Linked DNA regions of Homo sapiens: all the other regions are linked to region 4. The links come from fine-mapping of genetic effects on gene expression. A gene starts in region 4. Each other region holds a variant in brackets. All regions are shown on one strand. Distances are from middle to middle.

Region 1 (5,071 bases), 590 kb after region 4:
CAGTTTACATGTACATTGGATAAAAGAGTGTGGGGGTTTAGAACTACTGGTTGATGAGGAATCACAGTAGTATTTTTTTTTTTTTTGAGACAGAGTCTCACTCTGTTGCCCAGGCTGGAGTGCAGTGGAGTGATCTCAGCTCACTGCAAGCTCCGCCTCCCAGGTTCACACCATTCTCCTGCCTCAGCCTCCCGAGTAGCTGGGACTACAGGTACCCGCCACCACACCTGGCTAATTTTTTTTCTATTTTTAGTAGAGACGGGGTTTCACCGTGTTAGCCAGGATGGTCTCGATCTCCTGACCTCGTGATCTGCTCGCCTCGGCCTCCCAAAGTGTTGGGATTACAGGTGTGAGCCACTGCGCCCGGCCGAATCACAGTAGTATTAATAGTTCTCAAATCTTGTATAAATCTTCATCCTTTCCTGTGAGGTTTTGTGTCAGGAAGATGGGACTATTAGGACTGGTGGAAGGGATAATCAATCCCTTTTCAAGGTAATCTTTGGTTATTTGTTTTATTCCTATTATAGCTTCTTGTTTTGAGATGATGTCTCCCTATGTTGCCCAGGGTGGCTTCAAATTCCTGGGCTCAAGGGATCCTCCTGCCTCAGCATCCTGAGTAGTGTTACCTGAAAAATACCAGGTTCATTCACCTGGTGCATAACAAATGACTTTCCATGAGAACACAGGTTTTTGTTTGTTTGTTTGTTTGTTTTGAGACGGAGTTTCACTCTTGTCACCCAGGCTGGAGTGCAATGGCGGGATCTTGGCTCGCTGCAACCTCCGCCTCCCCAGTTGAAGTGAATCTCCTGCCTCAGCTTTTGGAGTAGCTGGGATTACAGGCACCCACCATCATGCCCAGTTAATTTTTGTATTTTTAGTAGAGGCAAGGTTTCACTATGTTGGCCAGGCTGCTCTTGAACTCCTCACCTCAGGTGATCCATCCGCCTCAGCCTCCCAAAGTGCTGGGATTACAGGCACGAGCCACCTCGCCCGGCCAGAGAACACAGGTATTGATCAATACTTTTATTACTTGGCTCAAGTAAAGAGGACACTGGGAGTATTCTCCAAAGCAGTGTCTCCCTGAGGACAAGTAACAGGAGAGTTTTATGGTATAATGGTGATGGGAGAAGGTGCATCAGTGCATGTAGAATTGGGGTCCCAGTTGCACAGATGCAGTGAGTCATACCAGCACATAGAAAGCATGTTATGGTAATGAAGCTATAGCTCCTTCCAGAGTGGAGACTTCAGCATGTTAATAAGGAAAGTTAACTTGGGTTCATCTACACTGCTTGGGGTCTGTCAGGAGCTGTTTTAGCCCAACAAGGTGACTGCATTCAAACCATGGTTTGGAGAGGTACAGGCAGAAGGGGAGGAGGCTGTAAAACAGGGTAATTGCTCAAGTTGATTATATTCCTATAATCCATGGAGATCCTCCCTGTCTGCTTACAGAGGCTAAAACTACAGGTGTGCAACACCGTACCCAGCTTATAGCTTCCTGCTTCAATGAATACTGTTTAATATTGGGAAGTGGTTTATTTGGAGCCACCTGTATCTGTACTGGTGTGGCCATTAAAATTTTCCCTAAGTCTGTAGACAATTGACACTGTCACCCGAAAAGCGGTCTTGATCCAGACCTCACGAGTGGGACTTTGTCTCAAAAAAAAGAAAAAAAAAAAAGAATTAACAGAATTGACCAAGTTGAGCCGGGCGCATTGGTTCATGCCTGTAATCCCAGCACTTTGGGAGACCAAGGCAGGTGGATCACAAGGTCAGGAGTTCAAGACCATCCTGCCTAACATGGTGAAACCCTGTCTCTACTAAAAATACAAAAAAATTAGCCAAGCGTGGTGGCAGGCGCCTGTAGTCCCAGCTACTCGGGAGGCTGAGGCAGGAGAATGGCATGAACCCGGGAGGTGGAGCTTGCAGTGAGCTGAGATCACACCGCTGCACTCCAGCCTGGGCGATAGAGTGAGACACCATCTCAAAAAAAAAAAAAAAGAAAAAAAAAAAAAACAAGAATTGACCAAGTTGAGGAAAAAATCTCAGAGCATGAAGGCCGGCTCTCTGAAACAACTCAGGGAAAATAAAAAACAGGCCTGGTGCGGTCGCTCACATCTGTAATTCCAGCACTTTGGGAGGCCAAGGCGGACAGATCAAGAGGTCAGGAGTTTGAGACCAGCCTGGCCAACATGGCGAAACCCCATCTCTACTAAAAATACAAAAATTAGCTGGGCGTGGTGGCAGGCGCCTGTAATCCTAGCTACTCGGGAGGCTGAGGCCGGAGAATTGCTTGAACCAGGGAGGCAGAGGTTGCAGT[G/A]AGCCGAGGTTGCGCCATTGCACTCCAGCCTGGGCGACAAGAGCAAGACTCAGTCTCAAAATAAAAAAAAGAAAAGAAAAGAAAAAACAACACAGAAGAAAACCTTCAAGAAATATGGGATTATATAAAGTGGCCTATGACTCTTTGGCATGCCTGAGAGACAGGGAGAGAAACCAAGCAACTTGGAAAACATATTTCAGGATATCACTCATGAAAATTTCTCCGACCTCGCTAGGGAGGCCAACATTAAAATTCAGGAAATGCAGAGAACCCCTGCAAAATACTACAAAGAAGACCATCCCTGAGACACATAGTCATCAGATCCTTCCAGGTCGAAATGAAACAGAAAATATTAAAGGCAGCTAGATAGAAGGGACAGGTCACCTATAAAGGGAACCCTGTCAGGCTAACAGCAGACCTGTCAGTAGAAATCCTACAAGACAAAAGAGACTGGATCCCATATTCAGCATTCTCTCTTTTTTTGATTTTTATTTTTGAGACGGAATCTCACTCTGTCACCCAGGCTGGAGTTCAGTGGTGCAATCTCGGTTTACTGCAACCTCTGCCTCCTGGGTTCAAGCAATTCTCATGCCTCAGCCTCCCAAACAGCTGGGACTACAGGCACATACCACCACAACTGGCTAATTTTTTGTATTATTATTATTTTTTTAGTAGAGACAGGGTTTTGCCATGTTGGTCAGGCTGGTCTCAACCTCCTGGCCTCAACCGATCTGCTCACCTTGGCCTCCCACAGTGCGGTTAATTCTTGTGATTGCATTATGAAATTCTTGTAGAGCATTTTTCAGCTCTATTAAGTCAGTCTGGTTCTTTCTTATAAAGGCCATTTTGTCTATCAGCTCCTGTATTATTTTATTGTAATCAATAGATTCCTTGGATTAGTTTTTGACTTTCTCCTGTATGTCAATGATCTTGATTCCTATCCATATTTTGGATTTTATTTATGTTATTTCAGCCATCTCAGTCTGGTTAGGAACTACTGCTGGGGAACTAGTGTGGTTGTTTTGAAGTAAGAAGACACTCTGGCTTTTTCGGTTACCAGAGTTCTTGCCCTGGTTCTTTCTCATCTTTGTTGGCTGATATTTCTTCAATCTTTGAAGTTGCTGAACTTTGGATGGACTTCTTTTTCTTTTATCCTTTTTGGTGCCCTTAAGAGTTTGTGGTATAATGTGGCTCCAGTCAACTGTCTTAATTTCTGGAGCATTTTAGGGGTCCAAGGCTCAGCTCAGGACTACTAGACTGTGTGCTCTAATACACGGGGCCTGGTATCAGGCATCCAGCTTTGTCCTATGATCCCTGGAGGTCAGAAACCTGCCATGCTGGAGGGTCAAGTTGTTCCCAGACTATTGGTAACAACACTCTGAAGGGCAGTGCCAGCCCCAGTGCTTAGGGTGGTGGCAGCAGGATCCATCCTTGTTCCCACATGCCAGCAGCAATGGCAGTGGTGGGGTGTACGTTTATTGGCTGCGATGGAGTGCTGGTGGGTGTAGGGGTGCCAGCCTCCACGTGAGTGTTCACAGTGCTGGTGGTGGCAGCACAACATGGGGGGGTAGGGAAGGGGGTTCCATTGATGTCCCAGTACACATTCACACCAGCAGTGGAGTTAATATGGAGGCAAGGTGCTGGCAGGTGCAGGACTGTTTGTACCCTCTGTGCATGCATTCACGTGGGTAGCAGCTGATACTGGTGAGTGGAGTGTGTCTGCTCGTCTGTGTAGTTTTGTGCTGGTCCAGGGGTGGGGTGCTGGCAGGTGCGGGCTGGCAGTCTCTGGGATCGCAAATGCTCTGACAGCAATGGTGGTGCAGCGAAAAGTTGGGGGGATGAGGTGTGCTCACACTGGCAGCTGTAGCATGACAGGGTGCACATGCACACGCATGCTGGTGGAAAAGAGAAGGCAAGGTCCACTTGCATGCACATATGCTGGCAAAGCAACGTCGGGGGTGGCCATAGGTGAATGCATGCAGGCAAAGTGTCTCAGAGAGGCCGCAGTTTTGGGAAGGTGCAGGTGGGCTGTTGCACGACTATGGGATTTATCAACTGCAGTTCACCAGCACAGGAGCTATGATGTACACCCCCATAAGGGACCCCACCTGGGCAACCGAGGTCGCACTGCAAGCAGGTGTGGGTAGCCTGGAGCCCTGGGAGAGGCCAGCTGACCAAGAGGTGCTCAGGTCCAACCATCCCCAACTTATCGGCAAGAACGCCCTGCACTGATCAGGTCTGACTTCCCTAGGGCTAAAGTCTGTTAGGGAAGCAAGGCGAACCTTGAAATATGGGCGTGTCTAGCTGTGCTCCACTAGAGATGCTCCCACCCCAAATCCTCTGGGCTCTGCACTGGCTGGAGTTCTGTCCCTACCACTTCTCTAAGCAGCTCTCCCTGCCAGCTCAAGTGTTCATGGGGGTCATTGAGTCTCCTGCTGGCAGGTTTCCAAAGTTTCTTTGTGCTGAGCTGCCTTTAGCTGGAGGAGCAGTAACACAAGTACCCCTGTGCCACCACCAATGGGACTATGTGGGGTCAGACCTGTAGCCAGCAGAGAACTGGGTGCTGCCCAAGGCTCATACTGACCACTTCCTGGCTACTCCCTGTTTGTTCAAGGCCCTAGGACTCTACAATCAGCAGGGGGCAAAACCAGCGAGGTTTATGTCCTTCCCTTCAGAGTGGCAAGCTCCTCCCCATCCTAGGCACATTCAGAAAAGCCATCTGCGAGCCAGAGCCTGTAGTGGGAAACCTTAGGA
Region 2 (5,071 bases), 77 kb before region 4:
TCAGTAGCCACTGCTGCTTCCACATCTGTCCTAGATCCCTCTCTGTTCTCCCTGCCTATGTGAATGTCACCTAACAGGCTCAGTAGTGGGATATGTGACAGGACCAGTACTCCATGACTGGTCGTTCCTCACCCTGACCATGGCACCCTTGCCCTGCCAAAGATTGTACTCCTGGCTGAACGTTAGGCAGTGTACTCCAGGTAGAAACCCCACACAAGGGAGTGGATCAAACCTTCACCAACAGTAGACCATTTATGGTGAAGACCACCTTTTCAGATGTGACATGGCTCACAGTAAGAGCACTTTTCAGTTCATGCACAGCAAAATTCATAAGTGAGAGGACTCAAGGGCCAGGCATTTGTGAAGGCTTTCCAGGGTAACTACCCCCTTCCAGCACTGGAGTACCAGAATAATGAGAAGCTCAAAAGAGAATGTGGAAAGGCCTTCCTTTCTCCATCACCAGAGTACTCATGGCACAGGGAAGCCATGAAGAAGAGCTGAGTGAGAAGATGCTGCCACACAGCTCTAACATCAGATAACACCGGGCAGGCCATGATAGGGAGAAGCCCTTCAAGAGCAGTGGCTATGGGAAGACATGAAGACTTTTGCCCTCTTCAACCACCTAAGAACCCACACTGAAGAGAGATCTTTAAATACTTGGTATGAAGAAAGACCCTCAAGAAGAAATCGATTCTTATCTATAACCAAAAAATTCACAGTAGAGAAAACCCCTGCATCTAAGGAATGTGGGATGGTCTTCAGTCACCTCTCCTATGTGAGAAAGCTATATAAAGTACCTATGGGAAAAAGGCATTACAAATGCAGTGAAAATGGGAAAGCCTTCAGCTATAGACACCCCCTTTTAAGAAAAATCACCAGAGAATTCACAAGAGAGTTATGGGCAACAAATGTGGGAAAGCCACAGCTCCCAGAATCTTAGGCGGCACTGTATTACTGCTATTGCAGAAGCCATCTGTATTAGTTACCTATTGCTGTGTAACAAATTACTCAAAACCTAGTGGCTTAAAACAATAGTCACTATTTCACAGTCTCTATAGGTCAGGAACTTTGGTGCAGCTAGCTGACTCCTCTTTAGGGTTTCTCACAAGGCTAACATCAAGATGTCAGCTGGGGGTGTATCATCTGAAGGCTTGACTAGGGAAGGCTCTGCTTCCAAGCAAACTCATGTAATTGGCAGCATTCAGTTTTTTGTGGGCTGCTGGACTGAGGACCCGTCTGTTGGTCTGAGACCTCCTCCAGTTCTCTGCCACATGGGCCTCTCCAAAATGGCAGCTTGTCAATCAAAGCTTGCAAGCTGATCATGCAGTGGAGAATACCAACAAGTCAGTCATTTGTAACCTAATAACAGAAGTGAGATCCCATCATCTTTGCTAAATTTAGTTAGAAGCAAGTCACTTGGTCCAGCCCACAGTCAAGGGGAGAGCATTACACAAGAGCATGAATACCAGAGGGCAGAGATCATTGGAAGCCATGTCCAAAGCTGCCTGCCATACTGTCTCATCTCTGCCACCTGGCAAGATCTCATGATATGTATCAGTCTCCCTCACTGTGCTAAGGGAAAGCAGACTATACTCCCTTTTCCATTCTCTAGAGAGAATTACATAGGCTTTGAGTACCTTCATTTTCTTTCCCACTGATGGCTTTAGATTTTGGTATGACAATTCTTGCTAAGATCTGAGCTGGTGTCTTCTGGAGCTTTCCAGAAAAGGTTTCTTGGCCGGGCACAGTGGCTCATGCCTATAATCCCAGCACTTTGGGAAGCTGAGGCAGGCAGATCATGAGGTCAGGAGATCGAGACCATCCTGGCTAACATGGTGAAAACCCACCTCTACTAAAAATACAAAAAATTAGCCAGGTGTGGTGGCGGGTGCCTGTAGTCCCAGCTACTTAGGAGGCTGAGGCAGGAGAATGGTGTGAACCTGGGAGGCAGGGTGTGCAGTGAGCCGAGATCGTGCCACTGCACTCCAGCCTGGGCGACAGTGTGAGACTCCATCTAAAATAGAAGAAAAGGTTTCTCTTCATGGACATTGTTTGCATCTACATGTGACACTTAGGAATGATCTGTTTAGTCTCAATCACTCACTCCTGGATCTGCCTGTCTCTCTCTGAGATAACAAAGGCCTTAATGTTTAGCCACCTGCATCAGAGTTGGTGAGGTGGTTTGAAACAATTCATCCTAATATAAAAAGAACAGCTTTTGTAAGGGGGCACTGAGTGTCTCAAACAGCC[G/A]CATGGGCAGGAAGAGTGCTCAGTCCAGTTTTGGTTGAATTTGTCTTGTTGCCCTAAGGCCTCCTATGAAAGACTGACAGGCTTGGACTGAATCTTGTGATCTGGACACCAAGGGTCACCTGTGGGCCCAGAGCTAGCTCTGAAGAATGGGGTAGTTTCTTTGAGAACCTCCACAGCAAAAGTTTGGTCCTCTGTTCCCAATGCATGTCCCACTTTACCAGCTACATCCCCCAGTACCTGCCCATGGCTCATGACTCATGAAATATAAAACTCAGTAGGCAGGCATAACTGGTTCAGACCTGCCAGGGCTATGTGGGAACTATCATTGGTACAAAAACTCTAAGTGTGGAGAAGACTGTGGTAGACAAGAGGGGACATGTCTGTTCTAAACGCACATCAGAAACTTCCAATGACTATGGCCAAGTGAGATAAGGGTGTACAGAACTTCTCAGGACATGCAGACCTATGTGTCACTCATAACTGAAATTCAAATAAATATTTTGTGGATTTCCTGTGGACTCCCTGGGCTGTTCATCTCATGGCCATCACTGCACAGGTAGGCACCTCAAGACAGAGAAGACAGAAATCATGGTCTGGAGTGGCTTATGTGAGTAGCCAGGGTTTCTTGAGAATCATATGGCCGTGGCCTTCATAATTCCACTTCTGGTGGCCACCAAGCAGGTCTGTCCCTCTTAAGGGGTGGGGAGACAATATGGTGGAGTCAGTACAGATTTCCCATATCTCCTGGTTTTCCAAGAAGAGCCAAATATTCAGATTTCTATGTGGCATGTGATTTTATAAATGTTGAAAATCATTTCCAAAAACATTTCAATGCAAACTCAGTTCACCAAAACTATAGGTTGGCTTTAGATATTTCCCTGGGTCCTCCTGAGGCCTAGGGGAGAAAAGACCGGAAATCCTCTGACATGAGAATCTTTGGCCTGTGGTGTCCATCCATACTGTATGATGGATCAGAGGCCACTGCAGCTGCCACGTCTCCTGGAAGCCCCTGAGGGGATGGACAATGATAACCACATTGTGAGCAGAAGCCACAACAGTTTTGCCGTCAGCAAAGTTTACAGCAGGGCTTCTCAAATACTCCCCAGCACAGTGAGGTGTCTGGGGGATACCTACCCTACTCAGGCCTTCCTTCCTGAGTGTAATGTCTCCAATATGGAAGATGCTAATGTCTCCAATATGTAAGACACATGTGGGATCAGAATTAAAGGTTAGCTGAGCCATATGGGGCTCAGCCTTCTAAGCAAATAAAGTTAGGGTAGACACGTCATCAGAGCTCAATCCTCTGTGTGAGTGGCCAAGATTAGATCTCATAAGATGGTGCTGGGCATGATTGTGGCATGCCTGTTTCCAGCTACTTGAGGCAGGAGGATCACTGGATCCCAGGAGTTCAAGACTGCAGTGAGCTATGTTTGCACCACTGCACTCCAGCCTGGGCAACATAATGAGACCTTGTCTCTAAAACAGGAAAAAAAAAAGGCTGGGCGCGGTAGCTCACGCATGTAATCCCAGCACTTTGGGAGGCCAATGCGGGCGGATCACCTGAGGTTGGGACTTTGAGACCAGCCTGACCAACATGGAGAAATCCCATCTCTACAAGAAAAGAAAGAAAGAAAGAAAGAAAGAAAAAGAAAGAAAGGAAGGAAGGAAGGAAGGAAGGAAGGAAGGAAGGAAGGAAGGGAAAGGAAAGGAAGGAAGGAAGGAAGGAAGGAAGGAAGGAAGGAAGGAAAGAAAGAAAGAAAGAAAGAAAGAAAGAAAGAAAGAAAGAAAGAAAGAAAGAAAGGAAAGAGAAAGAAAGAAAGAAAGAAAGAAAGAAAGAAAGAAAGAAAGAAAGAAAGAAAAAAGCCAGGCATGGTGGCGCATGCGTGTAATCCCAGCTACTCAGGAGGCAGGAGAATTGCTTGAGCCTGGGAGGCAGAGGTTGCAGTGAGCTGAGATCACGCCATTGCACTCCAGCCTGGGCAACAAGAGTGAAACTCCGTCTCAAAAAAATAATAAAAAATAAAAATAAAAAAGGAAAAAAAAAAGATTCCTAATACATGAGTAGAGTCCTACGTGTTTCTACTGAACCTGCCTTCTGATCTCCGACTGGGTCTCAGTATACAGCAGCCAACCTGTTAGGGGAAGATAGATGTTTGCCAATAATGCCAGAATATTCCAGGCAAAGTCCTGATGGCTGTGACTTTTGAGCTGTCCAGGTTACCAGCTTTTGTGGGATTCAGTGGCTCCACTGCTTTCAGACTATGCTCAAACCAAAAGGCAGTTGCCTTCAGCCCCTTGATGCAGTGTACTGACTACCCTGTTATTGTACACTCTGCTGTATGCAATGGTAGTTCTCTTCTGGAATCTACTGGGCAGTTCCTTGCCCCTGGGCCTTTGCTTGTGCCCTCCCACATCAGGGACACCCTTGAAAGGCTTCTCAACCTCTCCCAATCATACCTCCAGATCAGCTATACCTCTCCTTCATGCTAGTGTCAGCATCTGTTGATTCCCTCATCTCCAACTCCCAAGCTTTGAGTGAACTATCTGGAACATGGGGGCTGTGAAATCTGAAGAGCAGCAGATTAAGGCCAAGGGTGCCAAAACACTCAGTAACCTTCTCTGGCTTGGCTCAACTTGGACTCCTACTGCTAATAAATTGTGCGATCTGGGGCACAGACTCCCAAGCTTCAGCTGTCTCATCTATAAATCCATGAAATCTGTCTCACAGTGTCCACCAGAACTTCTGACAACACAGAAAACTCTCCATCAATATGAAGCCCTTTACACCGACAGTGGGAATCACTACATTCTCCTTAGGCCA
Region 3 (5,071 bases), 54 kb after region 4:
TCTGAAGCCCAAATCTCAGAAGCACCAGACTGATTTGGTGGTGAGCAGCACAAAGCTAGGGATGTAGATGACACCTGGGGAGGGCGTGGAGCACAAGGTGGACTCTAGGACCCCAGCATTTAGGAAGGGTGACGGGAGGTTGAGAAGTCCCTGAAGAGTTAGAAGGAACCCCACAATGCAAGGAGATGGAGCTCTGCAAAGAGGTTAGCAGGCTTCACAGTCCTGGGGATGAAGAGAGACGACACCAGAGGTAGTACCTTGGACAGTGGTTGCAGTGGGTTCTGTGAAGCAGTGGGGGCGGACAGCAGGTCTGAGGTGTGAGCTGCCACCAAGGGAATAGGGAGCACAAGCGATTCTCCCAAGAGCTTGAAGGAGAAAAGCAGCAGATACGGCTAGCTGCCTCCATCATCCACCAAGGGAATAGGGAGCACAAGCAATTCTCCCAAGAGCTTGAAGAGAAAAGCAGCAGCTACGGCTAGCTGCCTCCATCATCCACTTCCCAGGACTTTTCTCTCCCACCTGTCTCCACCACAGAGGTTAGAAAGGTAAATACGAGGTTTCTAAGCCCCGTTGTTATTAGGGGTGGCCCCCTGACCCATCTGTGGCCAGTGAGACTAAGGGGGGCATGTGCTGCAGGCTTCTGGGAATGTTTTTCCTTTAAACACCATCAGCGGTAAGTGTTGGCCTGCCCATTCCCCCTTCTTTCAGTCTTCACTGTGGATGCAATGGCTGGAGCCATAGGAGTCTCCTCATGACCACAATGGAAAGGTTGAGAGATTGCAGAAAACATCGACTGTGACACAGCTGAGCCACTGAAAAGACAGCCTTTGAACAAAGCCTCATCTGTTTAAGCCATGGTCAGCTGGGTGCTGACATCAAATTCTAACTCCACCACTTCCTAGCTTGGGCTGGTTACTTTTGTTCTAGTTACCACTAACTTTTGTCCTGTGCCAAATTTTGCCTATCTATAAAATGGTACTAACTCACAGAACTATTATTGTGGCAGTGTCGGAGGGTGCAGCATTTAGCTATGCGAATGGAGGTTATCTAAGGAGACAGAAGTGGCGCAGTCCAAGGTAGGAGGCCAGAGTTGCTGTGAAAAGTGAGAGCTGACACGGCAACGTTTTGAGGACAACCCCGAAGAGGTAAGTGCAGAGAAACGAACTTGGGCCATCCACAGGGTCCTGTTGAACCTCTAGAGATGAACCACAAAGCTCTGGCTCTGGCATCCTGGAGGCCAGCTCTGCCTTGATTGGATAGCTGAGTTGTGACACTCCCAGCATCCAAAAAGCAAAAACGGACACGGGAAGTTCTTTTATTTTTTTCGAGATGGAGTCTAGCTCTGTCACCCAGGCTGGAGTGCAGAGGCACTATCTCAGCTCACTGCAAGCTCTGCCTCCCAGGTTCACGCCATTCTCCCGCCTCAGCCTCCCGAGTAGCTGGGACTACAGGCGCCCGCCACCACGCCAGGCTAATTTTTTGTATTTTTAGTAGAGACAGGGTTTCACCGTGTTAGCCAGGCTGGTCTCGATCTCCTGACCTCGTGATCTGCCCATCTCGGCCTCCGAAAGTGCTGGGATTACAGGCGTGAGCCACCGCGCCTGGCCTGACACGGGAAGTTCTGATGCTAATGCGTTCCAATGCTCAACCATTCCAACATGGTTATTCAAATTGCTGTTTTGGGGCCAGGCGCGGTGGCTCACTCCTGTAACCCCAGCACTTTGGGAGGCCGAGGCAGGTGGATCACGAGGTCAGGAGATTGAGACCATCCTGGCTAACAGGGTGAAACCCCGTCTCTACTAAAAACGCAAAAAATTTGCCGGGCGTGGTGGCGGGCGCCTGTAGTCCCAGCTACTCGGGAGGCTGAGGCAGGAGAATGGCATGAACCTGGGAGGCGGAGCTTGCAGTGAGCCGAGATCGCACCACTGCACTCCAGCCTGGGTGACACAGCGAGACTCTGTCTCAAAAAAAAAAAAAATTGCTGTTTGGCAGGGTGCATTGGCTCACACCTGTAATCCTAGCACTTTGGATGGCCAAGGTGGGAGGATCGCTTGAGCCCAGTTTGAAACTGGCCTAGGCAATGTAGTAAAACCCCATCTCTACAAACAATTAAGAAATCTGCTGAGTGTGGTGGTGCATGCCTGCAGTCCCAGCTACAGGGGCGGCTGAGGCAGGAGAATTGCTTGAACCTGGGAGGTTGCAGTGAACCACGTGACAGAGCAAGTCTCCATCACAAAAAAAAAAAAGAAAAAGAAAAAAGAAAAATTCCAACCAAATGCACTGTGTGGATCTTGTTTAGATTATGATTACTATGAAACAAATAGAAAACAAAATTTATGAGGCAACCCAGAACATCTGAACACTAGGTATTTGATGATATCTGTTTAGATGTGATAATGACAATATAGTTCTACTTGAGATTTAACAAAATTAATTTTTCCCGTTTCATCACAGAAATTCAGTGAAAGTAGGCCAGGCACGGTGGCTCATGCCTGTAATGCCAGCATTTTGGGAGACTGAGGCGGGCAGATTACTTGAGGTCATGAGTTTGAGACCAGCCTGGCCAACATGGTAAAACCCCATCTCTACTAAAAATACAAAAATTAGCCGGGTGTGGTAGCGCACACCTGTCATCCCAGCTACTTAGAGGGCTGAAGCATGAGAACTGCTTGAACCCGGGAGGCGGAGGTTGCAGTGAGCCAAGATTGTGCCACTGCACTCCAGCCTGGGCGACAGAGCAATACTCCATCTCAAAAAGAAAAAGAGGGCCAGGCGCAGTGGCTCATGCCTGTAATCCCAGCACTTTGGGAGGCCGAGGTGGGCGGATTATGAGGTCAGAAGATCGACACCATCCTGTCTAACATGGTGAAACCCCATCTCTACTAAAAATACAAAAAAGTAGCTGGGCAAGATGGCGCACACCTGTAGTCCCAGCTACTCGGGAGGCTGAGGCAGGAGAATGGCGTGAACCGTGGAGGTGGAGGTTGCAGTGAGCCGAGATCACGCCATTGCACTCCAGCCTGGGCGACAGAGCGAGACTCCGTCTCAAAAGAAAAAAAAAAAAAAGAAAAGAAAAGAAATTAAGTGAAATTAGCTTTTCTTTTTCTTTACTGCATTTCCCAGTGGAGAA[G/A]AATATGAACAACCAACCTCAGGGCTACTGCCCTGCTTTGAACTCAGGCTCAGCAGTTTTACCTGCCATTGCTTTCACACTATCAGTGCACAGCAAAAATGTGAAATGACAGCTTAGTATGATTGTGAAAATGGTTTTGTCCCAGTGGACAAACATGGTTATATATATATCCAGGGAAGGAGAATGGTGGGGAGGTAGATGGGAGTACCAGCAAAAATATATGACTCATGTTTGAAAATGTCCACAATACATCCTTAAAGGTTACTCAGAAAAATAAGTGGCTGGGCACAGTGGCTCATGCCTATAATCTCAACACTTTGGGACGCCAAGGTTCGAGACCAGCCTAGGCAACACAGTGAGACCCTGTCTCTGCAAAAAATAAAAAAAATCAGGAATGGTGGCACATGCCTGTGGTCCCAGCTACTTGGGAGGCTGGGGTGGGAGGATCACTTGAGCCCAGGAGGTCGAGGCTGCCAAGTGAGCAGTGATTACAACACTGACTCCAGCCTGGGCAAAAGAGTGAGACTCTGTCTCAAAAAAAAAAAAAGGATTATCTTCCTTATTTCACATCAATTATGAATGCTGCAAAACCGTAAAGGATGTACTAAAAAGTACATCATGTATAAACTAGCTAATGATGCCATCTGTTAAAATCAAGCTTATATGATTTCTAGTCTAGTCCAGCCCTGATTAATCAATTTGAAGGTTTTTTTTCTTTTCTTTTTTTTTTCTGAGACAGAGTCTTGCTCTGTCACCCAGGCTGGAGTGCAGTGGTGCAATCTCGGTTCACTGAAACCTCTGCCTCCCAGGTTCAAGCGATTCTCGTGCCTCAGCCTCCCCCAGGTAGCTAGAATTACAGGCGCATGTCACCACACTTGGCTAATTTGTGTATTTTTAGTAGAGATGGGGTTTCGCCATGGGCCCAGGCTAGTCTCAAACTCCTGACCTCAAAGGATCCGCCCTCCTCAGCCTCCCACAGTGCTGGGATCACAAGCGTGAGCCACCACAGCTGGCTGCAAGTTTTAAAAATGTCAGCTACATTTCTGGGCTGGGTTTATACCCAGGTGGCTTCTCCACCTTGGCACTATTGACATTTGAGCTAGAGAATCCTTTGTTGAGGAGCTGTCCCGGGCACTAAAGGATGTTGAGCAGCGTCCCTGGCCTCTACCCACTACATGACGGCGGCACCCTTCCTCCAGGCACAGCAACCAAAAATGTCCCTAGATGTCACCAAATGTGCCCTGGAGGCAAAAGCACCACCAGTTAAGAACCTCTGGCTCAGCTGGGCATAGTGGCTCATGCCTGTAAACCCAGCACTTTGGGAGGCCGAGGTGGGTGGATCACGAGGTCAGGAGTTTGAGATCAGCCTGGCCAACACCCCATTTCTACCAAAAATACAAAAATTAGCTGGGCGTGGTGGCAGGTGCGTGTAATCCCAGCTACTCGGGGGACTAAGGCAGGAGAATTGCTTTAACCTGGGAGGCGGAGGTTGTGGTGAGCAGACTGCGCCATTGCACTCCAGCCTGGGTGACGGAGCGAGACTCCATCTCAGACAAAAAACAAAAAAAAGAACTTCTGGCTCATAGCAACACCAGATGTTTTTCAAGAGGAGCTGTGACACTCCCCTGCACGGAATGCTGTGAAATTTCGTGGGGGCTGGTCACGTAATTGGGTTGGGGGTGTGGTTGAAATGTGGGCAGGAGCCATGCATGCTGCCAAGATGGTGAGGAACAGAACTGCCCCCAGTGGACCACATCAACAGATGTGGAATAAGCAGTTTTCAGGGTATGAACTGAGAACCTAACTGGACTTCACACATAAGCACAAACTAATTGCTGCATGCTTGGAATTTACCCAGAATTTCCCAGAAATGCAATAGCATATTATGTTGTTAAAAACTTTTCCAAGAGTTAGTCACTACTTTGGAAGGTCACGTTCCAC
Region 4 (5,071 bases):
AGCTCTGCTCCTCTGGCCTGGCCACCAGTCCTTGTCTGAGTGCCCCAGGTCTGGTTATGACTTCAGGCCTCAGCACCTGGTTGTCTCTTCTGCAAAGAATGCATTCTCCCCCAGTCCACCCAGAACACACAGCCTCCATCCAGGTACTGGCTCTGAGCAGGACAGAGAGCATGCAGCAGGTGCTCAGCAATATGGAAATGGGACCAAACAGAGGGAGTCTCCACAGCTCCCCGTCCCTCACAGCAGAAGCCAGAGCCGCTGCAGTGCCCAGCTGGTCTTCATCACGTCTATGAGCTCTGCAATCGCTCTGCAGTCGCCTCAACTCCTGGTCTCCTCTGCTCCTTCTCACTGCACCCGCATCTCCCATGTTTGCACTGGCTGTTCCCTCTGCCTGGAATGCTCCTTGCCCAGTTATCCCACTGTCTTCTTTGCATCTGGCACACAGTAGATGCTCAATAAATGCCTGTGGAATGAATGAGTGGGGAGGATGCAGTGCAGGGGGCAGATGAGGGCTAGGCGGTTGCCCTGGGCCCTCACACTCGTAGCGGAGCTAGGCTGGGACACCCAGGGTGGGGACCAGACCTCCCCGGGTGGGAATGACAGGATGTCCATGGAGGCTGAGTGTGAAAGCACCACGGTCTCACCCCTGTCCTGTTCCATCCCAACAGGCTGTGGTGAGGAGAGGGGGAGGCAGGGGAAGCGGGAGGCCTGGCCTCCAGGCAGCAGGCTATAGCCACATGAGTGACCACCAGCAGCTCAGGTAACTGAGCACATGTCACGGGTAGGCCTGGGAAGCGCAGGTCTCAGCTGAATGACCTGGGTGGAAATCCGACTCCAGAGCCGTGGTGGGTCACACCATGCAGAATGAACCAGTGATGGAGAAGGAACCACAGTCCTCAGGAAGAGTGAGGGTGCACCTCCAGACAGCCCATGTGAGGGCAACCGCAGAAAGTCTGAAAAGAGGTGAACCCCACCTTTGGTGTCACATGTGCAGTGTGGTGTGACAGGGAGGGGCTCGCTGGGCTTCAGCCCCGGCACTCTCCACTTGACCTCAGCAGCTCCAGGTAGAGTGGGGAGAACTCAGCGTCTCCTTCTAGAACAGGTTCTAGGATCCATCACTGAAATGAGGATGAGGTGGTTTTAACATCATTTTATCACTCTTGATTTAGTTTATTAATCATACATGATTATTGATTATAATTGTTGCTGGGCATCCTGAGGCCTCAGAAGTTCACCCTTTGCCCTGACCCCATGGGGGCCCTGCCCCCGCCTTCCGGGAAGGACAAACACGGGAAGAGGTCAGTGCCCGAGCCACCCCACCGCCCTCCCTTGGGGCCTCATTGCTGCAGACGCTCACCCCAGACACTCACTGCACCGGAGTGAGCGCGACCATCATGTCCATGCTCGTGGTCTTTCTCTTGCTGTGGGGTGAGGCCTCCTGGGGTCTGGGTCCCTGGGGCGGGAGGGGGCGGGAACAGGAGCCTTACGGGGGCTGTCTCCGCAGGTGTCACCTGGGGCCCAGTGACAGAAGCAGCCATATGTGAGTGCAGGGGTGAGGTCTGGGAATGGTGGGCCCAGGCCGGGGGGGAGCCCTGTCTCTGTGGCACTGAGCTGATCCCAGCCACCCCTTGCAGTTTATGAGACGCAGCCCAGCCTGTGGGCAGAGTCCGAATCACTGCTGAAACCCTTGGCCAATGTGACGCTGACGTGCCAGGCCCACCTGGAGACTCCAGACTTCCAGCTGTTCAAGAATGGGGTGGCCCAGGAGCCTGTGCACCTTGACTCACCTGCCATCAAGCACCAGTTCCTGCTGACGGGTGACACCCAGGGCCGCTACCGCTGCCGCTCGGGCTTGTCCACAGGATGGACCCAGCTGAGCAAGCTCCTGGAGCTGACAGGGCCAAGTGAGCCGGGGCATGAATTGGGGGCCAGGAGGCAGTGGGTAGGTTGTTGACTGGGGGGTCTCCCTTCCTCCAAGTCACCCGATGTCTCTGAGCCCCAAGCCCCAATCTTCCCATCTGTCAAATGGGGATGATGTCTGTGTTGTAAGGAATACATGGTTGTGTCCCCAGCAGGCCCGGCATGCCGTACAGCTCCCACACACTCTTTTTCTCTTGCCGTATGCCTTGTTTCCACTGGTGCCTGCCTGCCTTTTCCCAGCAATGCCCTCCATCCCTGTCTCCTTCACAGTCTTATGAGTGTGGGGCCCAGGTTCTGCTGGGCTTCCCACGTCTCCTGTTATGCAGAAGCACTCTTCAACTCCACCCCACCCACAGAGTCCTTGCCTGCTCCCTGGCTCTCGATGGCGCCAGTGTCCTGGATCACCCCCGGCCTGAAAACAACAGCAGTGTGCCGAGGTGTGCTGCGGGGTGTGACTTTTCTGCTGAGGCGGGAGGGCGACCATGAGTTTCTGGAGGTGCCTGAGGCCCAGGAGGATGTGGAGGCCACCTTTCCAGTCCATCAGCCTGGCAACTACAGCTGCAGCTACCGGACCGATGGGGAAGGCGCCCTCTCTGAGCCCAGCGCTACTGTGACCATTGAGGAGCTCGGTGACTGTGGGAACCATCTCTGGGGGCTGCTGGGGGAGGAGGATACAGGGGGCATGACCACATTCATCCTGACCTCCATGCTGAATGTCCTTGCCCAGGACCAGGTCCAGGAAGCTGGCCACACGGTTGCCTGGGTCTGATGGTTGCAAAGGAGTTTGGGCAGAGGATGCCCAAAGAATGGAAGGGTGAGGCCGGGTGCGGTGGCTCACGCCTATAATCCCAGCACTTTGGGAGGCTGAGGCCAGCGGATCATGAGGTCAAGAGATCGAGACCAGTCTACCCAACATGACGAAACCCCGTCTCTACTAAAAATACAAAAATTAGCCAGGTGTGGTGGCAGGTGCCTGTAGTACCAGCTACTCAGGAGGCTGAGGCAGGAGAATCCCTTGAACCTGGGAGGCAGAGCTTGCAGTGAGCTGAGTGGCGCCACTGCACTCCAGCCTGGGCAACAAGAGCGAAACTCCGTTTCAAAAAAAAAAAAAAAAAAGAATGGAAGGGTGTTCCTGGGATTGCCACCCGGAGGGCAGAGGTCTGGGGACTGGGCAGAGGGCAGCTCCAGGGATGGGGCAGCCTAGTAATGCTGCCTGCATTGCAGCTGCACCACCACCGCCTGTGCTGATGCACCATGGAGAGTCCTCCCAGGTCCTGCACCCTGGCAACAAGGTGACCCTCACCTGCGTGGCTCCCCTGAGTGGAGTGGACTTCCAGCTACGGCGCGGGGAGAAAGAGCTGCTGGTACCCAGGAGCAGCACCAGCCCAGATCGCATCTTCTTTCACCTGAACGCGGTGGCCCTGGGGGATGGAGGTCACTACACCTGCCGCTACCGGCTGCATGACAACCAAAACGGCTGGTCCGGGGACAGCGCGCCGGTCGAGCTGATTCTGAGCGATGGTGAGCCGGGGCCAGCAGGGACAGGGACGCGGCTGGGTCCCTGGGGAGCAGGAGCAGTACCAGGTGTAGAGTCTGGGGAAGTGCAGTGCTCTGGGCCAGGGTCCAATACCAACTTTATCCGCCCACCCGCCGATTCAGGGTCCTAAACTGCAAATATGATGATGAGCGTGACAACCTTCAGGCCCCACAGGGAATAACTGGGTGAACAGGTCTGGCCCAGGCCACAGGGGGCACCACCTGGCAGGTCCCATCCCAGCTGCCAGGTCTAGGTGAGCACTGAGGGCCTCTGCTGAGGCAGCTCCTCCGCTCGCTTGCCTTGGACCTGATGGTATTTAGCAAACTCTGAGCACCGGACAGCGAACCCCATGCCCAGCGGACCACAGGGGCCCCTCCGTGGGGCGGGCATTGGGGCGGTGCTCAGAAGACGCTCGTGGAGCAAATCCACTACTGAGCGGCATCGTGCACCAGGCATCAAGCCATGCACAAAACATGTCCCCGTCCCCGCTTCCCGTCTGTGTCTGTAGACAAACAAATTACTAAGAAACAGTGAAAGGGTGCGTGTGAGATATCCAAGGACTGGGATGCAAAGGTGGGGCGGGCCCGGAGGAGGCGAGGGAGGAAGCTGGCCAGGTCATTGCGGGCAGAAGACTCAGCCAAGGCAAAGAGCGCGAGGCCAGACCACGCGTTAGGGCCGAGCCAGCCGCTGGGCGCCCGGGTCAGCCCGTGTGCTGCTCCGCAGAGACGCTGCCCGCGCCGGAGTTCTCCCCGGAGCCGGAGTCCGGCAGGGCCTTGCGGCTGCGGTGCCTGGCGCCCCTGGAGGGCGCGCGCTTCGCCCTGGTGCGCGAGGACAGGGGCGGGCGCCGCGTGCACCGTTTCCAGAGCCCCGCTGGGACCGAGGCGCTCTTCGAGCTGCACAACATTTCCGTGGCTGACTCCGCCAACTACAGCTGCGTCTACGTGGACCTGAAGCCGCCTTTCGGGGGCTCCGCGCCCAGCGAGCGCTTGGAGCTGCACGTGGACGGTGAGCTGGCGGGGCACCAGCGAGGGCGGGCGCGGGTTCAGTGCCCCTCGGGGCCTCCTGTCTTTCCCCTCTTTCCTTGGGCGTCCGACGGCGGCGCTCTGGGCCTTGGTTCAGCCCCCATCGCCTACCCCGGCGGGGAGCAGGCGATCGGTGGTCGAGGGTCTGGGGACGCCTGGAATTTCGGCTTATTTCCCACGGACGCAAGCCCGTAGGTCACGTGTAGCGTGGTGGTCGGCAGCAGGGAGGCTGGCCCCAGGTTTTCTTGTTCAGATCCCTGCAGCTCTGTGGCTGCCTTGTTTTATTACTGGCCATGTCAGTCGTCATACTGGACCCCCCGCCCCGGCCCCGGTCCCGCAGGCGCACGGCTGATGTGTCCTTCTCCCCATCCCCGCCGTCCCCAGCTCTGTTTGTCCCTCTGATTTCCTCATCGACGTCTCCAGGACTCAGAGCCCAGCAGAGCGTGAGGGCACAGGTCTGACCTCCAGATCTTGAGGTCGTACCCTTTGCTGGGAGCACCGTTTTCTCTTTTCTTTCACTTTCTTTCTTTTCTTTCCTGCCTTCCTTCCTCTTTCTTTCTTTCTCTTTCCTTCTTTCTTTCTTCCTTCCTTC
Region 5 (5,061 bases), 33 kb before region 4:
AGGACCACGGTAGGTACCGTGTGGCACAATCAACCCAAAGGTTTCGATTCTTGACCGACAGTATGAAGGCTCTAGGGGCTGCTATTACGGGGGGAAAGTTACACAGAGCAAAAGAGGGCATCGTGTCCCTAAGAAATGGAAACTTCCTATCTCAGAGTACAACCGCATAGTTCAAACCAAGTTCCCCAAGCCCCGCTATGGGGAAAAGCTAGAAGCGGCGGAGCACCAGAAAGAAGTCAAGAGTAACTCGGCCCGCGCCCGTTTCTTCTACATTTTCTTTTCCAGAGACAGAAATGAGACCTAATGAGAAAAGGCCCAGGCCGCGGGGCACTATCCCCGAAAGACCATGAACCGTCCCTAGGATCCCCGGCCCCGCGGCGGTCTCACCTGAGAACACAGCCTGAGCGTCTCTGTCACTCGGCGTAGACCACGCGCCGCCCTGGTACAGACAGGAAGAGGCCGCGCGCCGCGGGCCAACACTTTTAACTGGGAAGAAAACTTCCGGGTCAGCACGGGTGACGCTTGCGTAAAAGGCCATCGTGTCCCTATAGACCAATCCGGAGGAAGGTTGTAGAGGAACCTTTTGGGCTAGACGGAATGGGTGCAGCCCAAGCGCATGCGCAGTTGCAGAAGCGGCCCTAGAAGCGTGCCTGGCGGATGTCCGCTACCCCGTAGTTGCCCTGTCTTGTGGGCGCCTGCAAAAGCGCAGAGATTTCCGTGAGACCAACGCAGCCATGTCTAATAAAGAAAAAAGTCTGGCCAGCGCTCGCTTCTTTGTTCAGCTGCTGACCTTAAATCCCACCTGCCGCGGGAGTAGCCAGTTCAGTTCCCTCTGACTCCTCGCCGCGGCCACAGCCGCCTCACCGGCACGCGCCTGATGCGGACCTGGGTTAGCGGAGTGAGGCCCAGTGGTCACCGCCGCCCTCCGCAGGTCCAGGTTGCCGTGCGCATGTGCCTGCCACACGCGGCCCCTCCCCCACCGCCCGGCCCAGGAGCACCACGCTCGCGAGCCCCGGATCCCGAGCCTCTGGCTGGGCCTGTTTCCCTGCTCGACCTTTCCTGCCATACCACGCTGGGTTCCCCCACAGCCTCCGCGCCCTTCACCTCTGCTATGCAGTAATCTCGCCCGTGGAAGAGGGGAGACCGCCGGCACGAGGGCCCGGGGTTGCGGCGGCGGGAGCAGCGCGACCCGTCTCTGGGTGGAGCGCGGAGGTAGCCTACAGGCTACGCGCGGTGTCCGGGAGGAGGGGGTCGGCAGGTCGGGGACCCTTCGTGTTTGTCCTTGTGTCCTCCACGGCCGGGGAGCCCGCGCGAGGGGTTGCAGCCCCCTGCCCTCAGGGCTCACGTCACGAGGCCCTCGTGTCTGCAGACGTGGCTCTCAGGGGTGCCTCTTGAACTGGCCGACCTCTCCAAGGGTCAGAAACGTAGGTTTCTGGCCAAAGGTTGAAAGGAGGGATGGAAGATTTAGCCATGAGATGAAGGAGATTATTCCCGCCAGCACACAATCCCCTGCCCCCCAACTTCTGTCCCTTCCCCCAGCTGCCTCTGAACAGGTAGGGCCTCTGAACAGCTCAGCCCTGGCTGGGAGCAGACAGCGAACCCTCTCACAGGGCCTGAACTATTGCGTGGGATTGAGGATGTGGGCCTTCGACCCGGGGTCCTCATCCGTGCGTGGGGTTGGCACGGTAGTGAGTGCCCCAGCTCACTCTACTCACTTGGCCACCCTGGCAGCCAGTGTGGACAGTCTGCCTGCCCATGACCCCTTCATACCCCTCTGCCTGTCCCAGCCTCTTAGATCTAGGCTCATGAGCAGAACTGGGACTTTCCAGAGGTAGCAACTACTTTGACTGTGTCTCTGCCTGCAGCAGGCATAGACATAACCTTTACGAGGCGACTCCAGGACCACCTGGGGCCGCCCTGTCTCTGATGCCCATCTCTGCCTCCAAGGGGTTATCCCTCCAACTCGGGATCCGAAGGGCCCAGCCACCTGACCCAGGTCCCAGGGCTGGGCCTGCCCCCTACTCCCATCCCTGAGGCGTGCACATAGCAGGTGCCCAGCAGCTGTGTTTCTTCACTGCCTGACTGTAAAGGCTCTTCTTACCCCAATTCTGGGGCGTTTCTGTCCAAATATGCTGAGGACTCCCCACAGTGGGCCCTTGGACTGTGGTCAGTCACAGCTCATGAAAGGACACATGCCCTGAAGCTGGGCTGGTCAAGGGGTCAGACCTCAGCCTCTGGTGAGGGGCACGGCCTACTGCCACCGCCTAATGGCCTTTACCCCTGCCCTCCATCCTGTGCAGAGTAGCAGCCTTGGGGCTCCCACTGGGGTCTGTGTGGTTGCAGGAGGGGCTAGGTGGGCTTCTCCCTGGTCTTGAGTGAGGGGCATGGGGGTGCTGGTTGTAGGGAGGGTGGGAGAAAACAGGCAGCACTCATCAGGACAGTGAGCCCACCCCTCTGAACCTGTTTTCCCCTTCAGTGTGGAAATGAGAATGCAATGAGGCAACGTCAATGTGAACCCTGTGGCCTGGCTACCATGGTCATTTGATAATGGACATCTTTACAGACCTCATGAGAATGACTCATCGTGCTGCAGAGGGCAGGTGCCCTCAAGTGTGGCGTGGTGAATACTGCAGAGCCGAGACTCATGCACCCCCCACCCCCGCCACCAGGTCCAGGGTGGTCCAGCCTCCCCAGGTCCCCAAGGTGCTA[C/G]GATAAGATGCAGAGTCTGACCTCATAGATCTAGGGCTGCTGGTGCTGTGTTCTTCAGACTGGATGAGGACCCCAGAGACTCTGCAGAGATCTACCTCACTTCTGGTACATTGTGTCCATCCTGAGTGGCCGGCCCCAGACTGGACTCCTCACTTCTGGGAAGGCACCCTCTGGGCCCTGCTGGGCCACCTGCCCACTCTCCAGGCAGTCACTTTGCCTGTCCACCCTACCAGCCACAGTCTTACTGTTAGCTGATCTTACATCCTTGTGATGGCTCCTTTTTTTTTTTTGTGACGGAGTCTCACTCTGTTGCCCAGGCTGGAGTGCAGTGGCGCAATCTTGGCTCACTGCAAGCTCCGCCTCCTGGGTTCATGCCATTCTCCTGCCTCAGCCTCCCGAGTAGCTGGGACTACAGGCGCCCGCCACCACGCCCGGCTATTTTTTTTGTATTTTTAGTAGAGATGGGGTTTCACTGTTAGCCAGGATGGTCTCGATCTCCTAACCTCGTGATCCGCCTGCCTCGGCCTCCCAAAGTGCTGGGATTACAGGTGTGAGCCACCGCACCTGGCCGTGATAGCTCCTTAATGCCTTTACTGGCACCTTGGTTGTCTGTTGAAGTCCCCAGCCTGATTATCAACTCGTTTGGAGTGTGCTGGATTCAGTCCACCCAGTTGCCTGGCAGAGCCAAGCCTGGCCCTGCCGCATCCCAAACTTGATCTTGTGCCCATGGCTGATACTTCATGGGCTACTTTGGCCTAGCCACTGTCTGCTTCTATGGGATGCCCACCTGTAATGGATTGAATGGTGGCCCCCAAAAAGGTAAGTTCATGCCCTAATACCCAGACCCAGCGAATGTGACCTATTGGAAAAAAATCTTTGCAGATGTAATTTAGTCAAGGATCCCAAGATGAGAGCATCTAGGATTAGTAGGGTGGACCCTAAATCCAATGACAAGTGTCCTTATAAGAGACAGAAGAGGGCCGGGCATGGTGGCTCATGCCTGTAATCCCAGCACTTTGGGAGGCCGAGGCGGGCACATCACGAGGTCAGGAGATCGAGACCATCTTGGCTAACACAGTGAAACCCCATCTCTACTAAAAATACAAAAAAATTAGCCAGGCGTGGTGGCGGGCGCTTGTAGTCTCAGCTACTCGGGAGGCTGAAGCAAGAGAATCACTTGAACCTGGGCGGTGGAGGTTGCAGTGAGCCAAGATCGCACCACTTCACTCCAGCCTGGGTGACAGAATGGGACTCCGTCTCACACACACACACACACAAAGATTCTTAAGGAAATGTGGCCGAGTCATCCAGGATGCTTCAGCCACTGGGGTTTGCTTTCGTGGCTCACCAGCACCTTCTCCCCTCCTGGGAACTGCCAACTTCCATTTCTCCTCTGTTCTTCCAGATCCTACAACCAGGATTCTGTGTTGGGGGCCAAGATGCCCTGCTGAAGCCTCTATTCCCTGAGGCTGCTTCGCAGTAAGCTACCCCAGGCCCTCAGGAGAGGTGTGAAATGGAGCAGAGGCCCTTTGCTGAAGACAGCATAGAGCCAGAGGGGGACCTCTGCGGAGGGATGGCCGGTAGCAGGACAACTCTCCTGGGTGCAGGGTCCCAGGCCTACAGACATAGAATGAGCCCCAGACTGGGGACCTGTGGGATTGGTAAAGTTGGACCCCTTGGGTGGGAGCCCCACTGGAGCTTCCTCTCCAGGTCCTTGCCTGATTCAGTCTCATTCCTGAAATCGCTCCTGTGTAACCATTGTCACAAGATGCTTCTCTGGTGCTGCCCCTGCATGAACCCTGCAGGGTCCACTTAGACAACAGGCTTGTGTAGAAGTGAAGAAAGCCTACAGACTGTCACAGCCCCCATAGCCGGTCCCCTCCAGACAAGTCCCCCGCACCTGTGCCTGCCAAGTGGTTAGGCCTTTCATTGGTGCTTCAAACTCCACTCCAGGGCTGCCAGTCACCCCATGCCAGCCCTGCAGGGACAAGGCCTTTGTGTGGTGGCCAGGCCTGTGGTACCACCAGAATCTTCACTCCAGAGGGAGGCCCTTTCTGTGCCTGGGAGTGGGAAGTTCTTCCACATAGGCTCAAGACTCCTCCAGTAGCAGTGCATCCACAGGTGTGAGAAATCCTACTTGTGTCAGGCCGGGTGCAGTGGCTCATGCCTGAATCCCAGCACTTTGTGAGGCCGAGGCGGGTGGATCATGAGGTCAGGAATTCAAGACCAGCCTGGCCAAGATGGTGAAACCCCATCTCTACTAAAAATACAAAAATTAGCCGGGCGAGGTCGTGGGCACCTATAATCCCAGCTACTCGGGAGGCTGAGGCAGAGAACTGCTTGAACCTGGGA
Region 6 (5,071 bases), 33 kb after region 4:
ATGGGTCAACTTGCTTCTTCAGGTGGAACCCAATCATTCCATTGTCTCCCATGCTCAATAGGACTTTATATTCTAGAACTGCCTCCTCAGTTCTAGAATTCCAGTAAATACCTCTGGGCATTGGTAAAAGGGAAGGAAATACTTCTGCCACCTTGGCCTTATCCATTAACTCAAGTATTTTCGTCCTGAAAAGTGAGTGCCTTTTAGCTAGGGGCACTGGGCAAGTGATTTAACCTCTCAAAGTCTCAGCTCCCTGATGTATGAAGTGGGAATAAAAATACATCCCAGGCCGGCTAAGAGGATGGAATGGGACAATCTACTTAAAGTGCTTCTAAAGTGCTCAGTAAAATCTTAACGAACATCATCACTGTCTCAACTAGTTTTAGTGACGTCCTCATGCTGAAGCTGAGGAACACACAAAATTTTCTTCTTAAAGAGCTAGACTCTGTGACACACACTTCAGCATATAAATTTTACCTTTTTGGTTCTGGGCAATAAAACCCCAAACTATATGGTCTACCTTAATACAAGGCACAAACAACTGCAAAAGCATCTTTTAAAAATATGTATTTTTTTGGGCGGGCGCAGTGGCTCATGCCTGTAATCCCAACACTTTGGGAGGCCGAGGTGGGTGGATCACGAGGTCAGGAGTTCAAGATCAGCCTGGCCAAGATGGTGAAACCCCATCTCTACTAAAAATACAAAAAGCTGGGTTTGGTGGCGGGGGCCTGTAATCCCAGCTACTCGGGAGGATGAGGCAGGAGAATCACTTGAACCCAGGAGGCGGAGGTTGGCAGTGAGCCGAGATTGCGCCACTGCACTCTAGCCTGGGCGACAAAGCAAGACTCCGTCTCAAAAAAACAAAAAAACAAAAAACAAAAAAACCCACATTTTTTAAATTTCATTTTTGTCTTGGCAAAAACTGAAATAAAGTCTTCTAGGACTGCTGAGAGGAAACCTGTTCATACCTGTGTACCTCCTACCACTTGGTTAGCATCCATGGGAATCTAATTAAAGTGGAAGTGGCCATTGTGCCCCTTGATAATTATGGAGAAGTATCTCCATGTGACATCTGAAAGACATATCCTAGGCCCACTCCCAGCTTCCTCACCCGCCCCGGTGACCCTGAAGGGAGAAATGTATAATAGGGGCTTCTCACACTGACCCTGATTTCCTCACACTCACAGTCCCTCTTCACCTGCCACCCCGGTGCAAAGGACAACACACCAAGGATAGATGGGAAGATCTCTGCCATATTTGGCACATGCCCAGTTCACTGACATACAAGAACCAAAGCGTCACTGAGGGCTTTCTGATATCCATGTATTCACATGGTTTTCCCTGGGAATGAATTCTCTGGTGCTGGGCCAGGAATCTGCTTTGGCGGAAGGCTTTGCCACACTCACAACACTCAAAAGGGCTTCTCTCCAGGGAATCCTCTCATGTAGTACAAGAGTTGTGGCCTCCTGGAAGGTTTTCTGACATATATGGCATATGAATGGCTTGGTACATGCATGCACATGCTGGTGCTGCGTGAGGTGTGTGCCACGGCTGAAAGGGTCGTTCCCCAGCGTGTACCTGGTAATACTCGGTGAGGTGTGACATCTGGATGCAGGACTTGCCACACTCATTCCACTTGTAGGGCTTCTCCCCATTGTGAGTCCTCTGATGGAGGGCGAGGGATGAGGTTTGCATGAAGGCTCTTCCACAGTCACCACACATGAAGGGCTTCTCTCCCATGCGGACTTGCTCATGCTGGGTGAGAAACTTGCTGTGGCTGAAAGTCTTCCCACATTTTCCACATGCATAAGGATGCTCGCCTGTGTGCACCCGCTGGTGTAGGACCAGGGCTGAGGAGTCACCGAATGGCTTCCTTTACTCACCACGTATGTACGGCTTCTCACCGCTGTGGATCTTGAGGTGCTGGGTCAGGTAGGACCCCTGGCTGAAGGCCTTTCCACATTCTGCACACACATAGGGCCACTCACCTGTGTGTACCTGCTGGTGCTTGCTGAGGGATGAGCTGTGGCTGAAAGCTTTCCCACATTCCTGACACGCATACAGCTTCTCTCCCGTGTGGCAGCGTATGTGCTCAGCCAGGGACAAGCTGGGGCTGAATGCCTTGCAGCATACCCGGCACTCGTAGGGCCTCTCACCCGTGTAGGTTCCGTGGCATGCAAGGAGGGCCGAGAAGTCAGCAAAGGCTTTGCTGCTCTTGGCAGGCAAATGGCTTTTCCCCGGTGTGGAATCACCAGTGCTGTACAAGGTGTGTGCTCTCGCTGAAGGTGCGTCCACACTCACCACACACGTATGGCTTCTCACCTGTGTGCACACGCTGGTGCTTGGCAAGGGATGAGCTCTCTCGGAAGCACTTGCCACAGTGGCCACACATGTAGGGCTTCTCGCCTGTGTGGACGTGCCAGTGCTTGACTAGAGATGAATTGTTGCTGAAGGTACACCCACATTCCTGGCATGCATACAGCTTCTCACTGGTGTGCTGAACAAGGTGACTT[C/G]TCTGTCCAAAGGCCTTGCCACACTCTTCGCACGTACAGGGTCTCCTTTTGTTGGGAATCTGCTGATAGCTCACAAGGCACGTGTTCTTGCCAAAGGTATCTTCCCACCCACTACATGGCAGTACACCCTCCCCAGCGTGGACTCCTTGTGGCTGATTAAGGTCTGGGAAACAGCTGCAGGCCTCCCCACATACACCCTCTCCTTGGCAGGAGCACCCCTGATCTAGGACGGAAACACACGTGAGATCGTTTTCCAGAATGTGGTTAGGGGTGGCTTGTGTCTCTGGGGGAGTGCCCTGATATTCAGTAACAAATGGATGCCAGCTGGAAATTCCTGCCAGGCTCCACTCTCGGCTCTTCATGCCACTGACTGACCATATCCCAGCTCTGGGCCTGTTTCCTAGTTTCCTCACTAAGCTGAGCACATGTACGTCTGTAAAAAATATACATGTATTTTTGAAAGCACAAAGTTTCACATCTCTGCCTGCCAGTCACTTACCAAACAACCTTTGGTTTAACTTTTCTGTGCCCCAGTTTCCCAACCTGTAAAAGAGGGTAATGATGATAGCTCCCCTTTGATTGGTTGAGAGTACCATCAAAGGTGTTTGCTGAGCAGCCTGACCTGCAGGAGGTGCTCAGGAAAGGGGAGCTGCTGCTGTCATTTGGTGGAAGTGGGTCCCCTTATTTGGCTAGCAGGGCCTGAACACTGCCACACTCCAACACATTGTCTCCACGTTAAGGAACTCAGCATCACACAGCAAGCCCTCGAGAAGCCCACAGCCAGAGGCAGTGTGGGGGCAGCAGCATAGATGGCTGTGGCTGCCTGTGGGGACCCAGCCTAGGTCCAGAGGAGGTACCCAGATGAGGTGGGGTGTCTGTGTGGACGGCTTTCTGTTTTAGAGGCAGGCGTCTGAGGCACAGCTCTTAAGCATCAAATCAGGAAGCCTCTTTCTGTGGAGCCCCAAGCCCAGTGACCCCCTTGCCTTCCTGGGAGTCAGGAGCAGAAGGAGGGTGTGCAAGTGGCATGGCTCTAGGCAGCAAAGATGCCATGAGGTGTTCGTGTTCTGTTTCACAGTCTTTCCACAGAGTGATGCCATTCCATCCTCCTGGGAGTCTGTCCCCATCATACTCACCATAACTCAAGGCATCTGCTAGCCAGATAAGGGGACCCACTTCCACCAAATGACAGCAGCAGCTCCCCTTTCCTGAGCACCTCCTGCAGGTCAGGCCACCCAGCAAACACCTTTGGTGGTACTCTCAACCAATCAAAGGGGAGGTATCATTACTCTCTTTTACAGGTTGGGAAACTGGGGCACAGAGAAGTTAAACCAAAGGTTGTTTGGTAAAGTGACTGGCAGGCGGGGACGTGAAACTTTGTGCTTTCAAAAATACATATACATGTTTTACAGAATTACAAGTGCTCAGCTTAGTGAATTTGGTAAATGCACAGCCCTGTGTAACTAGCATTCAAATTAAATTCTAGAATGTTCTGTGAGGATGGAAAAGTTCTGGAGTTGTGCTGTCCAATATGGCACCATCAGTGTCAGGTAGCTCCTGAGTACTGGAAACATAGCTGGTGTGACTGGGACATGGAACTTGTAATTTTATTTGAATTTAATCATAACTACCATATTGGACAGCGCAGGGCTAGGACATTTCAGCACCTTAGACAGCTCCCCTGTAGTAAGTAGCCCTTCCAGGAAAGGTGTCCCAGCCTAATTTTTTTTTTTTTTTTTTAAGACGTAGTTTTCCTCTTTTGTCCAGGCTGGGGTGAAATAGTGCAATCTTGGCTCATTGGAAGCTCTGCCCCCCGGATTCAAGCGCTTCTCCTGCCTCAGCCTCCCGAGTAGCTGGGATTATAGGCACCTGCCACCATGCCAGGATAATTTTTGTATTTTTAGTAGAGACAGGGTTTTGCCACGTCAGCCAGGCTGGTCTCGAATTCCTGACCTCAGGTGATCTACCCTCCTTGGCCTCCCAAAGTGCTAGGACTACAGGCATGAGCCACCGCGCCCAGCCCAGCCTCTTCTTGAACTTCATGAAAATTATGTGCCCTGTTATAGTCTGAGGCCTCAGCTCCATGCTATCAGGCTTCAAGGACAGCAGCCACAGGATACCTCTATGAGGACTATGTGAGAACAAAGTGAGATGTCAAGTGGGTGAGTGCTCTAAAGAGAAAAATTGATCATTCCTGCTGTACTGAATTCAGGTCCTAACAGAGACTCCCAGGAGGAAGGGCAGATGTGGGGCCTTTTGTTCCTTCCCACGAGACAAGAGTACTGAACAGACTATTTGGGCCCTGATTTGCCCATTACCCACACCTTCCTCCCCATCTTATTCCTAAGCTGAGAATGGCAAGTATGATGGTAGAGGCTGTCAGATCTAGGATCAAATCTTCACCACTCTCTGCTGTAATTCTGGGCTGCTCACCTCCCTTGGGGTCTGTTTCCTATCTATAAAATGGAACCTCCTGTGAAAAGCTTTTTGCTCATTAAGGAATGAATTACATTTAACAAAGTTTTGGATTTTATTAATAAAATGTATGGACATGTTTTTCT

The links.
Region 1: its variant is fine-mapped to the expression of A1BG-AS1 in atrial appendage (GTEx, PIP 0.96).
Region 2: its variant is fine-mapped to the expression of A1BG-AS1 in whole blood (TOPMed, PIP above 0.99).
Region 3: its variant is fine-mapped to the expression of A1BG-AS1 in whole blood (TOPMed, PIP 0.95).
Region 5: its variant is fine-mapped to the expression of A1BG-AS1 in whole blood (TOPMed, PIP 0.97).
Region 6: its variant is fine-mapped to the expression of A1BG-AS1 in lung (GTEx, PIP 0.98).

The regions. Positions count from the first base shown.
Region 1 is chr19:57,758,965-57,764,035 of GRCh38, reverse strand. No RefSeq gene overlaps it. Among named protein-coding and RNA genes, the nearest start is that of ZNF586, 8.2 kb to the left of the region's middle. The variant G/A (reference allele first, on the strand shown) is at 2,318.
Region 2 is chr19:58,426,330-58,431,400 of GRCh38, reverse strand. It overlaps a transcript of ZNF324B not described here. Among named protein-coding and RNA genes, the nearest start is that of ZNF132, 11 kb to the left of the region's middle. The variant G/A (reference allele first, on the strand shown) is at 2,251.
Region 3 is chr19:58,296,024-58,301,094 of GRCh38, reverse strand. ZNF8 (zinc finger protein 8) reads right to left here. Exons shown (of 4, transcript NM_021089.3): 4 at 1-5,071. All of the region lies in intron 4 of ZNF8-ERVK3-1 (ZNF8-ERVK3-1 readthrough (NMD candidate)), which reads right to left. Among named protein-coding and RNA genes, the nearest start is that of ERVK3-1, 6.8 kb to the left of the region's middle. The variant G/A (reference allele first, on the strand shown) is at 3,131.
Region 4 is chr19:58,349,761-58,354,831 of GRCh38, reverse strand. It overlaps A1BG-AS1 (A1BG antisense RNA 1), which reads right to left and starts at 2,862. Exons shown (of 4, transcript NR_015380.2): 1 at 1,788-2,862; 2 at 1,358-1,453; 3 at 975-1,118; 4 at 1-463. It overlaps A1BG (alpha-1-B glycoprotein), which reads left to right and starts at 1,340. Exons shown (of 8, transcript NM_130786.4): 1 at 1,340-1,428; 2 at 1,505-1,540; 3 at 1,635-1,904; 4 at 2,277-2,549; 5 at 3,145-3,441; 6 at 4,181-4,462. The coding sequence starts at 1,395. It overlaps ZNF497 (zinc finger protein 497), which reads left to right. Exons shown (of 3, transcript NM_198458.3): 3 at 1-475.
Region 5 is chr19:58,382,666-58,387,726 of GRCh38, reverse strand. RPS5 (ribosomal protein S5) reads right to left here and starts at 458. Exons shown (of 6, transcript NM_001009.4): 1 at 388-458. It overlaps MIR4754 (microRNA 4754), which reads left to right and starts at 869; the gene lies at 869-957. RefSeq lists enhancers at 148-197, 391-685, 1,748-1,817, 1,838-2,057. The variant C/G (reference allele first, on the strand shown) is at 2,710.
Region 6 is chr19:58,316,763-58,321,833 of GRCh38, reverse strand. ERVK3-1 (endogenous retrovirus group K3 member 1) reads right to left here. Exons shown (of 4, transcript NM_001396080.1): 4 at 5,022-5,071. The region is part of intron 2 of LOC105372480 (a long non-coding RNA gene); the gene reads left to right. It also overlaps the pseudogene LOC100887072. Among named protein-coding and RNA genes, the nearest start is that of ZSCAN22, 7.7 kb to the left of the region's middle. The variant C/G (reference allele first, on the strand shown) is at 2,514.